Linked DNA regions of Homo sapiens: regions 2 and 3 are each linked to region 1. The links come from fine-mapping of genetic effects on gene expression. A gene starts in region 1. Each other region holds a variant in brackets. All regions are shown on one strand. Distances are between the middles of the regions.

Evidence for each region.
Region 2: its variant is fine-mapped to the expression of PRDX6-AS1 in whole blood (TOPMed, PIP 0.99).
Region 3: its variant is fine-mapped to the expression of PRDX6-AS1 in whole blood (INTERVAL, PIP above 0.99). The same link has a PIP of 0.9 or more in skeletal muscle.

The regions. Positions count from the first base shown.
Region 1 is chr1:173,458,335-173,463,674 of GRCh38, reverse strand. It overlaps PRDX6-AS1 (PRDX6 antisense RNA 1), which reads left to right and starts at 2,313. Exons shown (of 2, transcript NR_125960.1): 1 at 2,313-3,297. LOC100506023 (a long non-coding RNA gene) reads left to right here. Exons shown (of 3, transcript NR_037845.1): 2 at 1,221-1,351. RefSeq lists an enhancer at 3,084-3,583.
Region 2 is chr1:174,163,093-174,168,432 of GRCh38, reverse strand. The region is part of intron 1 of RABGAP1L (RAB GTPase activating protein 1 like); the gene reads right to left. Among named protein-coding and RNA genes, the nearest start is that of RABGAP1L, 6.2 kb to the right of the region's middle. The variant T/C (reference allele first, on the strand shown) is at 2,982.
Region 3 is chr1:173,415,757-173,420,756 of GRCh38, reverse strand. PRDX6-AS1 (PRDX6 antisense RNA 1) reads left to right here. Exons shown (of 2, transcript NR_125960.1): 2 at 2,135-2,968. All of the region lies in intron 2 of LOC100506023 (a long non-coding RNA gene), which reads left to right. It also overlaps a transcript of TNFSF4 not described here. Among named protein-coding and RNA genes, the nearest start is that of PRDX6-AS1, 43 kb to the left of the region's middle. RefSeq lists enhancers at 378-477, 2,236-2,575, 4,384-4,433, 4,464-4,593. The variant TA/A (reference allele first, on the strand shown) is at 2,132.

The DNA of each region.
Region 1 (5,340 bases):
TTTCAAAGAACTTCTTGATTTCTGCCTTAATTTCATTATTTAACCAAAAGTCATTCGGGAGCAGATTGTTCATTTTCCATGTAGTTATATGGTTTTGAGTGAATTTCTTAATCTTGTGTTCTAATTTGATTACACCTTGGTCTGAGAGACTCTTTGGTATGTTTTCAGTTCTTTTGCATTTGCCAAGGAGTGTTTTACTTCCAATTATGTGATCAATTTTAGAGTAAGTGCTGTGGCGATGAGAAGAATGTATATTCTGTTGTTTTGGAGTGGAGAGTTCTGTATATAGCTATCAGGCCCACTTGATCCAGAGCTGAGTTGAGGTCTTGAATGTCTTTGATAATTTTCTGTCTCAATGATCTGCCTAATATTGTCAGTGGGGTGATAAAGTCTCCCACCATTATTGTGTGTGAGTCTAAGTCTCTTTGAAGGTCTCTAAGTACTTTCTTTTTCTGGGTGCTCCTGTATTGGGTGTATATATACTTAGGTTAGTTAGCTCTTCTTGTTGAAATGAACCCTTTACTGTTATGTAGTGGCCTTCTTTATCTTTTTTGATTTTTGTTGATTTAAAGTCTGTTTTGTTATAAACTAGGATTGCACCTGTTTTTTTCTGTTTTCCATTTGCTTGGTAAATTTTCCTCTATCCCTTTATTTTGAGCCTATGTGTGTCTTTGCACGTGAGATGCGTCTCTTGAAGATAGCATACTAATGGGTCTTGGCTCTTTATCTAGCTTGTTATTCTGTATCTTTTTTTGGGAGGCATTTAGCACATTTTCATTTAAGATTAGCATTTTTATGTGTGGATTTGATCCTGTCATCATGATGCTGGCTGGTTATTTTGCAGGTTTATGTGGATACTTCATTGTATCATTGGTATGTCAGTGTGTTTTTGTAGTGGTAATGGTTTTTCCTTTCTATATTTAGTGCTTCCTTCAGGAGCTCTTGTAAGGCAGGTCTGGTAGTGATGAATTTCCTCAGCATTTGTTTGTCTGAAAAGGATCTTATTTCTCCTTTGCTTATGAAACTTAGTTTGCATATGAAATTCTGGGTTGGAAATTCTTTTCTTTAGGAATATTGAATACTGGCCCCCAATCTTTTCTGGCTTGTAGGGTTTCCACTCAGAGGCCCAATGCTTGTCCGATGGCCTTCCCTTTGTAGGTGACCTGGTCTTTCTTTCTGGCTGTCCTTAACATTTTTTTCTTTTTTCTTTTTTTTTTCAGATGGAGTTTCACTGTGTCACCCAGGCTGGAGTGCAGTGGCACGATCTCAGCTCAATGCAACCTCTGTCTCCTGGGTTCAAGCAAATCTCCTGCCTCAGCCTCTTGAGTAGCCTGAGTAGCTGGGACTAAAGGTATGTGCCACCACACCTGGCTAATTTTTGTATTTTTAGTAGAGACAGGGTTTCACCACGTTGGCCAGGCTGGTCTTGAACTCCTGACCTCAAGTAATCCACCCACCTTGGCCTCCCAAAGTGCTGGGATTACAGGCATGAGCCACTGTGCCCAGCCAACATTTTTTCTTTCATTTTGACTTTGGAGAATCTGCTGATACATATCTTAGGGATGATTTTCTTGAATAGTTATCTTACTGGGGTTCTCTTGTTCCTGAATTTGAATGTTGGCCTATCTTGCTAGGTTGGGGTCATTCTCCTGGATGATATCCTGAAGTATGTTTTCCAACTTGGTTCTATTCTTCCTGTCTCTTTCAGGTACCCCAATCAGTTGTAGGTTTGGTCCTTTTACATAAACCCATATTTCTCAGAGGTTTTATTCATTCATTTTCATTCTTTTTTCTCTATTCCTGTCTACCTGTCCTATTTCAGAGAGATAGTCTGCAAGCTCTGGGATTCTTTGCTCTGCTTGGTCTATTCTGCTATTAATACTTGGGATTACATTGCGAGTACTTGTAGTATGTTTTTCAGCTCTGTGAGGTCGGTTATGGTCCTTTCTATACTGGCTGTTTTGGCTGTCAGCTCCTGCATTGTTTTATCATGATTCTTAGCTTCTTTGCCTTTGGTTAGGACATACACCTTTAGCTCAGCAAAATTGGCTTTTGTCCACATTCTGAAGCTTACTTCTGTCATCTTGGGCTCAGCCTAGTTCTGAGCCCTTGCTGGAGAGGTGTTGTGATCATTTGGAGGAAAAGGGGCTCTCTGGGTTTTTGAATTTTCAAGATTTTTGCGTTGATTCTTTCTCATTTTTGTGGGCTTATCTATCTTCGATCTTTGAGGTTGCTGACCTTTGGATGGCGCTTTCATGGATTGTTTTGTTTTTTCATCTTTTTCTTTTAGCAGTCTGTTTACTCTTCCTTACAGATGCTGCAGTTAGCTGGGGGTCCACTCTACACCCTGGTTGCCTCAGTTTTTCCTGTACTTGGAGGTATCAGCAGTGAATGCTATGAAACAGCAAAGATGGCAGCCTGCCCCTTCCCCTGGAAGCTCCATCCCAGGGCGGTACTGTCCTGTTGCCAGCATGAGCACACAGTATGTAGGGGGTGGCTGGAGACCCCAGTTGGGACATCTCACCTAGTCAGGAGGAACGGGATCAGGGATCCACTTAAAGAAGCAGTTGGGCTGTTTTTGATAGAGCAGTTGTGCTGTGTTGGGGATCCCATCAGCCCCTTGTTGGTTTGGGCTCTCCGAGGCCCACAGGCTGAACTGGCTGAGGTGCCCAACAGCCAAGTTGGTGGCCCGCCTTCCCCTCTGGGCACTCTGTCCCAGGGAAAAATTAGAAGTCTGTTGGCCACAGAACATGGGCGGGGGTGGCTGGATACCCCAGCTGGCATGATCTACCCGTCAAGGAAAAGTGGATCAGGGTCCCACTTAAAGAAGCCATCTGGCCATGCCTCAATAGAACAGCCTTGTTGTGCTGGGAAACTGCTTCTGCCCTTGTTGGCTTGGACTCTCTAAAGCCCACTGGTTGGAATGGCTGAGTCATTCAAACAGCCAGCTTGGTGGCCCTCCTTTCCTCCCCTCCTCCCCTCCCCTCCTCCTTCCCTCCTCGCCTCCCCTCGGGCATGCTATTCCAGAAAGAGATCAGGATCCGTTTGTGGAATACAGGCAGAGATGGCTGGAGGCCCCGGTTGGGAGGTCCCTCCCAGTGAAGAGGAATGGATTGGGGCCCCACTTAAAGAAGCAACCTGGCCACGTTCAGGCAATGCCGCTGTAGTGTTCTGGGAAGACCCTTCCTTGTTTGAACCATATGGATTCTCCGAAGCCCATAGACTGAAATGGCTGAGTCAACCAAACAGTAGAGATGGCAGCCCACCCCTCCCACTGGGGACTCTGTCCCATCACAGGTAGGCTATATTCCAAGCCAGTAGGTCTTATTTTGTGAGGTGTTGTGGAAGTGGGACCCACAGATTGATGCTGCTTGGCTCCCTGGATTCAGCCCCCTTCCTAGGGGTATGTACAGACCTCCCACCTTGCCTGAGTTACAGACACCTCTGTTGGGGATCCTGGGGCCGGAATATGTAAAGTTCCTGGATCTCTATGCATGCCTGAGCAGCTGCTCTGCTGAGACTCAACACACCTCTGTGTGTGGGACCCAAGACCCTGGTGATGTGGGTGCACAAGGTGGTGTGGGTGCACTGATCTCCTGATCTGTGGGTTGCAAAGATCCGTGGGAGAAGCGTGGTTTCCTGGGGTTGCACACTCACTCACTGCTTCCCTTGGCTGGGGGTGGGAGTTCTCTTGGCTTCATGTTGCTCCCAGGTGGGCTATTGCCCCACCTTGCTTTTCTCTCTTCTCCATGGGTCGAGTTGTTTCTGTGATCAGTCCCAGTGTGAGTGCCTGGATATTTCAGTTGAAGGTGCTATATTCACTTGCTCCTTTCTTCCTCTCCCTGAGTGCCACAGACAGCTGCTGCTTCTAATTGGCCAACTTGGCCCCCCTCCCCTGGGTTCTTAATAACGTAATTAAACCACAACCCATCCTAAAACTTATCCTACTTCTAGATTTCTGTTGAGTTCAGAAATACCCTCATTTTTAAAGATAATTGGAGTCAGGGTTTCTGTTACTTGCTGTCAAAAGCATTCTTAATTAGACTTGCTAATATTTGACTTTGGATTTTAAGAATAACCCAATATGTATTTTATTTTTACTATTGTTTAGTATTTAGTATACTTTAGTATCAGAATTAAATTTGTCAGTGAAGTGTATTGGGAAGTTTTTCATAGTTTGTACTGGCCGAATGTTTAAATAATCCAGGAATTATCTGTTCTTTATGATGTATTAGAACTTACTGATAAAACAAACTGGAACTGGTGCTTTTTTTGAAGTTAGAGCTTTTGCTGCATTTTCAAGTTTTTCTTTGATTATTGGGATAATTTCCTCTCTTCATGAGCTAATATTAGTAATCTGCATTTTGCTAAAAATTTGTCTATTTCATGTAGATTTTCTAATTTACTGGTGGGTATTTGGAATTTTAGAATTTTAAAAATCTCTTAATGCTGAATTATTTTTCTTTCCTTGTTGTAGATATTTGCATTTTCTTTCTCTTTTTTTCTTGTTCACACTTATTAATGGTTTGTATGTTGTATTCTAAAAACAAAAACAAAATAAAACAATTGCTTTATTTACCAGGTCTATGCAATTTTGTTTTGCCATGCTTTCTAGTTCATTAATTTTGAATTTTATTTTTATTAGTTTCTCCTATTCTCTGTTGGCTTATTTTTTTTTTTTTAATTTTTTTAAACTTTCTTGAACTGGGTGCTTAGATCATTTACTTTCAATCTTCCGTATATATTAAGAAGATCACTGAAAGCTCTGAATTTTCCTTTGAGTTAAGACTTTGGTTGTATCCCATAAGCTTTGAAATGGAGTGTTGTTTCATTGGTAATTTCAAACAGTCTGTGTTCTAGTACTGATTTCCACTTTAATCCAAGAGTTGTTTAGAAAACTGTTTTATAATGTCCATGTAATTAGATTGAGTTTGCTGTCTTTTTCATACTGATTTCTTGTTTGATTACCATGTGATCTGTACCTTTAGATATTTGAGATTTTATTTGTGACTTAGTCCTTGATAAATGTTTATTACTGCTTCATGGCTGTTTAAAAAGAGTGAGTTCTTTCTGTATAAAGGATACAACAAATATTATCTATGTACATGCCTTTCTCTACTTGTTTGTTGATCTATGTATGATGTCCATCACCCCTTATCTGCTTAAGCTCTAAAGGTCTTTTCTCTTTTCCCTACTCTTTCTCTTTCTACATCATCAATTCCTGATTCTCTACTAGATCATTATATTAGCATACAAACATGCTCTAGTACAACTCTCTCCAGTATAAATATGATGTGAGCCACATATGTAATTTAAGATTTTATGGTAGCCATATTAAAA
Region 2 (5,340 bases), 700 kb before region 1:
GGTGATAAAACAGCTGCTCAATAACAAAATTATTCTAAAACAACTTCAGAAACCCTACTGTCTGCCAATATATATATAACCTCCCTTCAATGGTTGATTTTTCAATGGTCAATTTTTCACTAAAGTAGTATACTCTATTCAATTTTTTTTTTTTTTTTTTTTTTTTTTGAGACCGAGTCTCACTCTGTAGCTCAGGCTGGAGTGCAGTGGCACGATCTTGGCTCACTGCAACCTCCATCTCCCAGGTTCAAGGGATTCTTGTGCCTCAGCCTCCCAAGTAGCTGGGACTACAGGCACACACCACCACATTCGGCTAATTTTTGTATTTTTAGCAGAGGTGGGGTTTCACCATCTTGGCCAGGCTAGGCTCAAACTCCTAGCCTCAAGTGATCTGCCTGCCTTGGCCTCCTAAAGTGCTGGGATTACAGGTGTGGGCCACCACCCCCGGCCATCAATGTATGCAAGATAAATTGACTACAGAAAAATAAACTATTCAAAGAAACACCTAATAACCATTCTAACAACTATTCCTTTATACAATGCTCTCAGCAAAAGGCCTCACAATGACAATTACGACATCTTGAAGCACAGAAAACACTCCATGTAGTTTATAAAAAAAACTAGTGATATGTGTCTCTTAAACCTTCATAACTCAAAACCACAGGTTTGTATTTTTTCTAAAAATAATATTTATTTGCATCACTTGTAGTAGAAGTCTGATTCTTAAAGTCTTCTAATTTTGCTTACTGCTAATAATGAGAATGGTAAACGGGTGTATGTGTGGGGTAAAGGAGAAGTTGAGAAATTCCTCACTGGTATATGAATGAATTCCATACTTGCCTTTTAAAATGTGCTCCTTTCTTGAAATTGGGCATACAAAAACTCCCTTTGGGTTTGCATTACTTTCATATTTGTGAATACTCACATGGTAGTCTTCAAAGAGCTAGAACACTTGTTTTCAACCATTTGCCAGGTGGGTGTATTTTCACCACAAATTCCAAGAACTAATGATATGTAAATATATATGTATGTATGTCTACACATACATATATGCACACTATGTGTATGCGTGTATATCTTTACAAATGTTTACATAATTTAATTAAGGGCACCATCATTATACTTTTTACCACACACACAAAAAAAATGGTGGCAGAAAATCTGGAAAGATTCTAATAACCTCAATTCGTGAAAACTAACATGCCTCAAAAAAGAGGGGGAAAAAACTTTAACAGAAACACTGTGCTGACATGATTAGCTTTATCATTTAACTGGTGTGAGGCATCTGGGCCATGCCATATTTGAACTCTTATCGTGGTGTTTGGGGTGTGCTATATTGTGGAACAGGTCACATGAAACTGCTGACACCTTCTAAAATGGTAGGACAACATTTACATATTAGGAGCTTACATAACTGAAGAAAATCGTGTGGCAATGACACAATTCATATTTATTTTAGAACCACGGCTCATCTCAAAAACTCTTTATCAACTATCCAGAAGTAGCCCAGCTTTTTACCAACCAAGTAGTTATTTACTATAGCAACTTCTTTACCAACATTTCCAAAATTTTCCACACACTTCCATGATGAGCTATTAAGCAGTCTCTGTATGTGTTGTTACCTGGGCAACACTCTAAGAAGGCTTTTACCTTTACAGAACTGGTGGGTCAAAGAGAAGCAAGGCTTCTTCAAATCGACTACACACTATTTAATTAGAAGCAGTAAGTGTGAAATCATCAGCAGACAGAAAAGCTTGAGAACTGCCACCAGTACTTCAACTTGATTAACAGACACAACTTACTGGCATTTATACCTTCATTTCTAGCTACCCAATTCCCCTGTGAAACAAGGCAAGTTCCATCCAAGACTTCAAAACATCTTCAGTCATACAGGCTGTCAAAGACATAAATGCTGAAATCTAAGAAAATTCTTGGAATAAAGAAGCCATCAATTCCTTACAAGTGGATTTTGTATAAAATACCCTGCTTTGCTGCCCTAAATTCTAAAAGCTACTCAGCTTAGCTGCAGATCTGTATAAACTACCCTTCTGCCTGAACTAAACCTGCCTCCAAAAATTAAGATCCAGTCATTTAGAAATCACATTTTAGAAGGCCCTTGTAAAGACTTTCAAAACTGCTTCCTGTTCTACTACAGCCAATTTGACGCTAATGAAGAAAAACAAAAAACAAACAAAAAAAAAACACTGTCTCTCCTTACAAATAAAATATTTTTCACTTTCCAACACTTTTAGGATTGGTAAACTCAAGGTTGCTTCTCTAACACTAATAATTTTTCCCTTCAGCTTCTACTCTAAGGATACTTATGTGCTCTCTGGATCATATTTTAATCATAACATATAAATCCTGTTCAATGTTAAGAAGTACTAGATTACTCCAGAGTCAAAAATGAAAGATAAACTGAAAAGCAGAAAGGAAAACTGGCATTCTAGGCTCTTAACCATCTGGTGCTAACGGACTCTTTCTTGCCTAGCTCTTTCACTACTCATTTTTCCCTGTCTATGCTTGTATGCCTTTGATCACCCTGGCCCCTGGCCCAGAAAGGCCTTTCTCTCATACTAGTTGTCCTATTTCCACATGTCCAAATCCTACCCATTCTTCAAAGCATAGTTCAGGGGCCGGGCGTGGTGGCTCACAACTGTAATCCCAGCACTTTGGGAGGCCGAGGCAGGAGGACAGTTTCAGTCCAGAAGTTCAAGAACAGCCTGGGCAACATAATGAGACCCCGTCTCTACAAGTAATGAAAAATTAGCCAAGCATGTTGGTGTGTGCCTATATAGTCCCAGCCACTTGGGGGCTGAGGCAGAAGAACTGTTAGAGGCCAGGAAATCAAGGATGCAGTGAGCTGTGATGGCACCACAGCACTCAGTTTGAGTAACGGGAGTGAGATGCTGTCTCCAAATTAAAAAAAAAAAAAAAAGTAGTTCAAATGTCACCTCTTCTTTTATCCTTAAAACTAAAAG[T/C]AGACCGGGCACGGTGGCTCACGCCTGTAATCCCAGCACTTTGGGAGGCTGAGGCGGATGGATCACCTGAGGTCAGAAGTTCAAAACCAGCCGGGCCAACATGGCGAAACCCCGTCTGTACTAAAAATACAAAAATTAGCCTGGTGTGGCAGTTGGCGCCTGTAATCCCAGCTACTCAGGGAGGCTGACGCAGGAGAATCACTTGAACCTGGGAGGCAGAGGTTGCAGTGAGCCGAGATTGTACCACTGTACTCCAGCCTGGGTCAAAAACGAAAAACAAACAAACAAACAAAAATAAAAGTAATCTCTCCCTCCTCTCTAAACTCTTATAGTTCCTTATCTTTATCTTTTTACCACCCATTACTTTCTGCCTTTCATTATCACTGTTGTTTCCATATTTAATCCCCCACCTAAGCATAAAGTCCTCAGGGTCAAGGTCCATCTTTATTCAAACTGATTAACACAATCCCTTATACACACTAAGTGAGGTTAGGAAAGAAGCCCACCAGAAACAACTCCAGATTGAGTCCAGAGCCCTGGCTTTGCTAATAACTCACTATCTGACCTTGGCCTTGAGGCTCTTAGTATGTTCCTTCACTTACAAAGTTAAGAGGGTAGGCTAAACTAGTTGTATTTGTTGTTAAATGTAGGCTATAATCCATTAGCTGGGTGTAAAATTAATTTGGAAGTCAAAACCCAGCATTTTTAAAATGAAATGAAATAACAGAATATATCAATGTGTGTTATAAGCAGTGGGGTGCTATAAATGTTTAACAACTACCTATGAGGAGGGAAGCCCTAAGAATACCATTTGCTGAATTTCCTGGTGTAAATATTCCCACCATGACCAATTTTGAGCTACCAACATGATGTCACTGGACAAAGAGCTAGATAGGAAGAAATATGCACAACTGGTCTTGCAAGCCATTATAGCTAACTCAGTAGGGCCCTGAAAAGATAAATATTATTTCACCAAACTTTCAACTTTGTGTGTGTGTGCGCTTGCGGAATCAAGTAGTAAAATGTATTTTTTATTGTGGGTCACAGTCAAATGAGTTTAATAAATGTTCAGGTAAACAATCTCCTGGTGTCCTTCATGTATACTACATAATTTGATAAATCTTACTCTTGGTTACAGATGTCTCTTCACCACAATTCATATTTTTCTTCAAAAATGGGAGTAACAAACTGATATCACCAGAAGGCAAATTACACAGAGCAGGAATTTGGTTTATGGAATATCAGCCAAGTGCCAAGGTTTTTAGCATTTGTTCAGCCCTACATACCTGAAGGATATAACACACTCCTACTATCAATGGCTCACTTAGCAATGGGTTGGGGGGCAGGTAGGGGGTAAGAGGAGGAAATCCATAGTATAAAAAAAAAATCCAGATAATTCTAGTATTTGTGCTCATGTTCCCACCCCACTGAATACCCAGATACACAGAAAATTAGAGCAGTAAAAAGTAAATGTTCCATGCCTGATGTTTCCCAATCAAATTCCCTTGCATCCCTCAATGAGACTTCCATTACTAAGAATCACCTACTGGAACTAAGCTTTTACCATGGACTAGGGATGCATAGTTCTTGCTGAATTTAGAACAGGCAACAGGGAAAATAACACAGCAAACAGTTGTTAGGCTTCATATTCTGGGAAAATCAGCCTTTTATTAAAAAAAAAAACTGTCTTATTTTCCTCTTATTTAAGCTTACTAAACTGGGTGAGAATTTTCTTAAATATATTTTTGGCTGTACTATGTCTATCACAACACAGCCTGTAACCAGATTTTTCATGAGTATTTATAAAGAATTGTGTTGTTGTTGGGTTTTTTTTTTTTTTAAGCCCAACAGCACTGGCAAATGTTTTCTACTTTAAAAGCTATTTAGAAAATAAGAAGGCTCAGAATTTCAAGTATACTAATAATCTTAGCCCAAATCTAACTCTAAATCAACTGAATATATGCCTAGAACTTTCCCAGGAAAATCCCCAAAAAGTACACCAAAAAACACCAAAAGATAACAAAAAAGAGTTAGCATGCGCATAAACTTCGTATACCCAATTATGCCATCCCATCTGTTGAATAAGAGCAATATGGGAAGTAAACGAAGTATAAAAAGAAGATGTTCAGAGATGCAAGCTCTTCTTAATTCATTAACTCTTCCTTATTAGGGTCCACTGATGTTCACATACTTATACCCAATTCAAATACTGACTATAAAGTCAAAATTATTTCCCGTTCTGAAAGTCTAGGAGTCAAACAATGTCTTTCTCTATAATATCAGCATTAAAACTCTCCTTTAAAAATGAGTATGTTTTACCATAACTCAGGCTCAAGTCCGTACTTTCTCCGCCTCCACT
Region 3 (5,000 bases), 43 kb after region 1:
ATTAACAACTTGGGAGGTTTTCTTTACACGTTTATTCCCTAGGGCATCATCTTTAAATTATATTTAGTTTTTGCTAAGTTGACCAGTTTGTGGTTTTAAGTGTTTACTTTCTTTTCTTTTGAAATGTAGGGAAAGCATATTTGACATCATCTTAAAGAAATTATGTAGCCATATAAAACCGGAGGGTAGGGTCTACTGGCCAGGAAAAAAAAAGGCCTTTACTGCCACCTGGTGGCCATATTCTTTAACTGCAATGTGCCTAAGTGAGGCTGGAAAGGAAAGCGTTGGAAAACATGCTAAACCCAGAGGGCACCAAGGCCGCGTCATGACAGTAAGAGCCGTCAAGTACTGTGTCCTTTCCCTCAGTTCTCAATCTCTCACAGCTTGAGGCTTGAGAATTAGCAGCTGGCTACGAGAGGTGGAGGAGAGAAAATGGTGAAGTCCATGCCTTCCTCCTTGGTACCGAGTTTCCAAACCTGAAGTGAAGGAGTCTGAGAGGGGAGAAGCTTCAGGTTGAGTAGACTGTTTTTTACTTTTTTTTTTGTTTGTTTGTTTTAAAGAGCCTCTTTATTTAATGGCTCAGAGTGGCTAGAAAATCCGTGGTATTGGTTAGCTTTCATCTCAAGTGCAGGGACAAGGCAAATCCAGAGAGAGGAGTTGAAAGGACAAAGAAAAAAGAAAAAAAATTGCTTTTTACGTGCATTTTGCTGCATGCAGCTCACTCAATAAACATGCGTTAAATGCATAAATATATCATGAGGTAAAAATCGGGGGAAAGGTGATGCATTGATGCTGATAGAGGACAGGCAAACTGCATTCCATTTGGACCGCAGCCTCTCATCCCCCCCCCCGCCACACAAACTAAGGTCAAAATCAGGGAGGGAGTCCAGGGTAAAGTTATCAGTAGAGTCAGCTCTAGGAGCTATAGTTAATCTATTTTAAAAAATCTTAAAAAACCCATAAGTCCATTATAGCAGGGACATAAAGCAGTCCTAGCCTCCTGACCCTGACCCAGCCATGGCAATCAGGGCTGCTTCCTTTTATTCTCCCTTGTGTCCTCATGGGTCTTTCCAAGCCCTGCAGGGAAGGGTGGAAGCTGGTTCCATCAGTGCCTCTCCCCCAGCTTCCACCCTCCTCTCTCTTCTGTGACCTCTCAGTTTTCCTTCTCTGTACCCCAAATCATGCCTGTCTTAGTCCATTGCTGTAACAGAATTCTACAGACTGGATCATTTATAAAGACAAGAAATTTATTGCTTATAGTTCTGGAGGCTGGGAAGTCCAAGCACATGGTGCTGGCATTTGGTGAAGGCCTTCTTGCTGCATCCTCACGTGGCAGAGGGCATCACATGGCAAGTGGGCAAGAGCAGGCTTGTCCGCTTGGGTTACTCTAACTCTTCTTTTTTTTTTTTTTTTCTGAGACGGAGTCTTGCTCTGTCACCCAGGCTGGAGTGCAGTGGTGTGATCTCAGCTCCCTGCAAGCTCCGCCTCCCAGGTTCAGGCCACTCTCCTGCCTCAGCCTCCCAAGTAGCTGGGACTACAGGTGCCCGCCACCACACCCGGCTAATTTTTTTGTATTTTTTTGGTAGAGATGGGGTTTCACCGTGTTAGCCAGGATGGTCTCGATCTCCTGACCTCGTGATCTGCCCGCCTTGGCCTCCCAAAGTGCTGGGATTACAGGCGTGAGCCACAGCACCCGGCCAGGTTACTCTAACTCTTCTTATAAAGCCACCAGCCCCACCGTGGGGGCCACACACTCATGGCCTTATTTAATCTTAATTACCTCTCAAAGGCCCTACCTCCAAATGTCATCGATATGTGAATTTGGGAATTAAGTTTCCAGCACATGAAATTTGGGGGTCACATTCAAACCATAGCAATGCTTAACCTTAGAATACTGCCTGGCATCTGCCCAGGCTTCCACAGCCACTACCTCTGGGACATGTTGGGATCTCTGTTTACATGTAAGGCTCGCCATGACCATTACACATCTGTGAGTCAGTGTAGGGTCCTGGTGGAAGCCCGGTCTTGGAGTCCCTCCATTATGTTTGCTACCCTGGCTCTCCACCTTCAATTTCTGGCTTCTCATTTTGGACTATGATGATTTTCTTGTTGTTAATTTTTTTTTTTTTTT[TA/A]GTATGAAAGTTTTCAAGACGCCTACAAGTGGAAAATGCACTCCTCCCAGCCAAATCAAGCTTCGCCAGATTCCTTACAGCTGTGTGCAGTGAAATGACTAATGAAAGAGCCCTCTGCTGCTGGTGGAACTTTCACATATGGCACTGTTATGCCACTCAGCAGGACCCGACCCTGGTATTTACATATTGGATGTCACCCCAAAAGCCCCTGACCAGGGGGTTTCCGGGATGTAATAAGAATGCCACTCTGGGCTTTGGAAGGTGCACCGTATGCACACCCATACTATAGGGCAGGGGTTAGCATTTCAGACCCCTGTTCCTCCCTTGACAAGCAAGTGCTTTTCTCCAGGGAAGACGTTCAGGTTCATTCATAGATCCATTGGTGCCGTGGGCAGCTCAGTAACAATAGCTCTGCTGCCTACCAGCTGCTGGTGGAGGTGTTGAGAATACCTAATGAGGAAGTCAGGGCCCCTGCGTGCTTCAGCAGAGCTGGATGCCTGGCATGGCAATCAATGGACACAAACCTTTGGATAATTTCCGTCCTTGGCGGTGTGTTCTATAGCATAGGTATGAAGTGGGTGCTCTGGGAGCTCAGAAGAGGGGCTCTTCTCTTAACTTATGGGTGGCCAGGGAAGGCTTCCTGGAGCTCAAATGACTGAGTGGAGTCTTCAACATTAAAAAAAAAAAAAAGAAAAAAAAAGTGCTTCCCTCCCACCCCCAGTTAAAAAGGTAATACACCTCATTGAAATAATTTAAACTTTACAGAAATGTGTTCCTTTAAAGTTCAGAGAGTAAAGAGGAAGTAATAAAGCTGAAATAGTAGAATTTCTAATTAACTGGAGCCTGTAGCTTTCTTCCTGAAAAGGGAGTGGTGTGTGTGCATGTGTGAGTGTGTGTAGGTGAATCTGTAAAGGATGGAGTAGTACTAAAAAGAGGGAGGTGAAGACGGAGGTGAGATCTCATCTTTGTGCCCTGAACCTCTTTGTTATAATGTCAGGCAATGAGAGAAATCAGTACTCACCCTCTATGGGACTCTGGCTTTTTCAAACTTGGTTTTCTAGGTTTTGGTCTTGGTTATTGATGGCTTGTAACTTCAGAGTCTCATTGCTGGCCACGCTTCCACGTGGTTTATTAAGATGTTTTCCTAAACAAAATTGATCTCTCCCTAAAAAAATTATAGGTCTAGCTGTAAGATGTTAACAATATTTAACCTGCTACAATGCCAATAAGAGTTCTTGTTTATTGAAGACTTTTTTTGCACCAGCTATGTGCTAAGAGCTTTACATTTGTTACCTCATAACATCAACCCTCACACGAACCTTATGAAGCGGGTATTTCATTATTCCCACATCCCAGATAAGGAAGCTAGGATTATTATTGCTGCACCCGCAAAGCTGATAATCAGTGGGGCTCGGCCCCAAACCGAGGTGTCTCTGACTCCTGGGTCTATGCTCACAAATGCACCATTCCTCTGCATTATTTCTCAAAAATATTTGGCTATAGGAGCATTTTCAAAAGTGAGCACCACTTACCTCTTAGTACTGTTATTAGCATTCCGTGGGACACAATTTGGGAAATACTGCCCCAGGAAAATACTGCCCTGTCTTTAAAATAGAGATAATAATACAATCTCCATATTGTGATGATTAAAAGACGTTTCAGGAAATGGGTGCTGAGGATACTTACCTTCCACCAGGAATGTGTGTGTGCTTTAAAAATAACATTTGTGGCCGGCCACAATGGCTCACAACTGTAATCCCAGCACTTTGGGAGGCCGAGGCGGGTGGATCGCTTGAGTCCAGGAGTTTGAGATCAGCCTAGGCAACATGGCGAAACCCTGTCTCTACTAAAAATACAAAAATTAGCCGGGCATGCTGGCGCACATCTGTGGTCCCAGCAATTCAGGAGGCTGAGGTTGCAGTGAGCCAAAATGACATCACTGCACTCCAGCCTGGGCAACAGAGTGAGATCTTCTCTCTCTCTCTCAAAAAATAAATAAATAAATAAATAAATAAAAATAAAAAAATAACATTTATAATGTCCTCAGTGAAAGGAAGCAATGTTTTGGCCAGGATGATAATGAAGATATTGTTACTGGGCTGGGAGACCCTTGGGCCCTGTTGGGGAGGGCCCTGTAAGCTGCCACTGCCCACCCTCCACAGGTGCCCCTTTGGTCCCCTTCCCTCTCCTCTGCCCTCTGGTTCTCTCCGTCATCCCTCTGTAGTGCTTGTCTTTGTTCAGGAAGATGCTCCATTTGCCTGCCTCTGGGCAGGGGACTTGCTTTAAGCCACGCTGCTGCCTACTCAGGCCAGCCCAGGATGTCTCCTTTGCAAATTTGGACCATGTTCTGAGCCCCAGCTGTAGGCCAGAGATCTGTGACATATTGGGCAGACCACCCACAGCCCAGCTGCTGCCACTGCTTAGCCTACATGTGCCCAGAGAGCTACACTATCACCACCCACCACATCTCACCGACAGACCCTGCCTTTAGAGACAAGGACCAACCTAGGAGAGCCTGGGTTGGCTCTACCTCCCTGGGCATTGATTTGGACAGCTCACCAACTCCCAAAGGAGCCAATCTTCTGGCCTGGTTGGCTCCCAACCTACTCCCTGCCCCATCGGTTTGCTGCAGAGGCCCGGTGGACCTGGCAGTCCCACATCATGACATTCCTTTTCTTCCATGCACCAGTTTTGCACAGCTGTCATTTTTCTTTCATAATTTCATCAGTCCCACAGATACGCACATTTAGGCAAAAATACTATGAACAAAACAGACAAACAAAAACAGGCCCTCAACCCAGCTCCTGAATACCAGTTAGAAAGAGCATTTGCATTCTTCTCAGTAAATATCAAGCATACTAAAAAAGA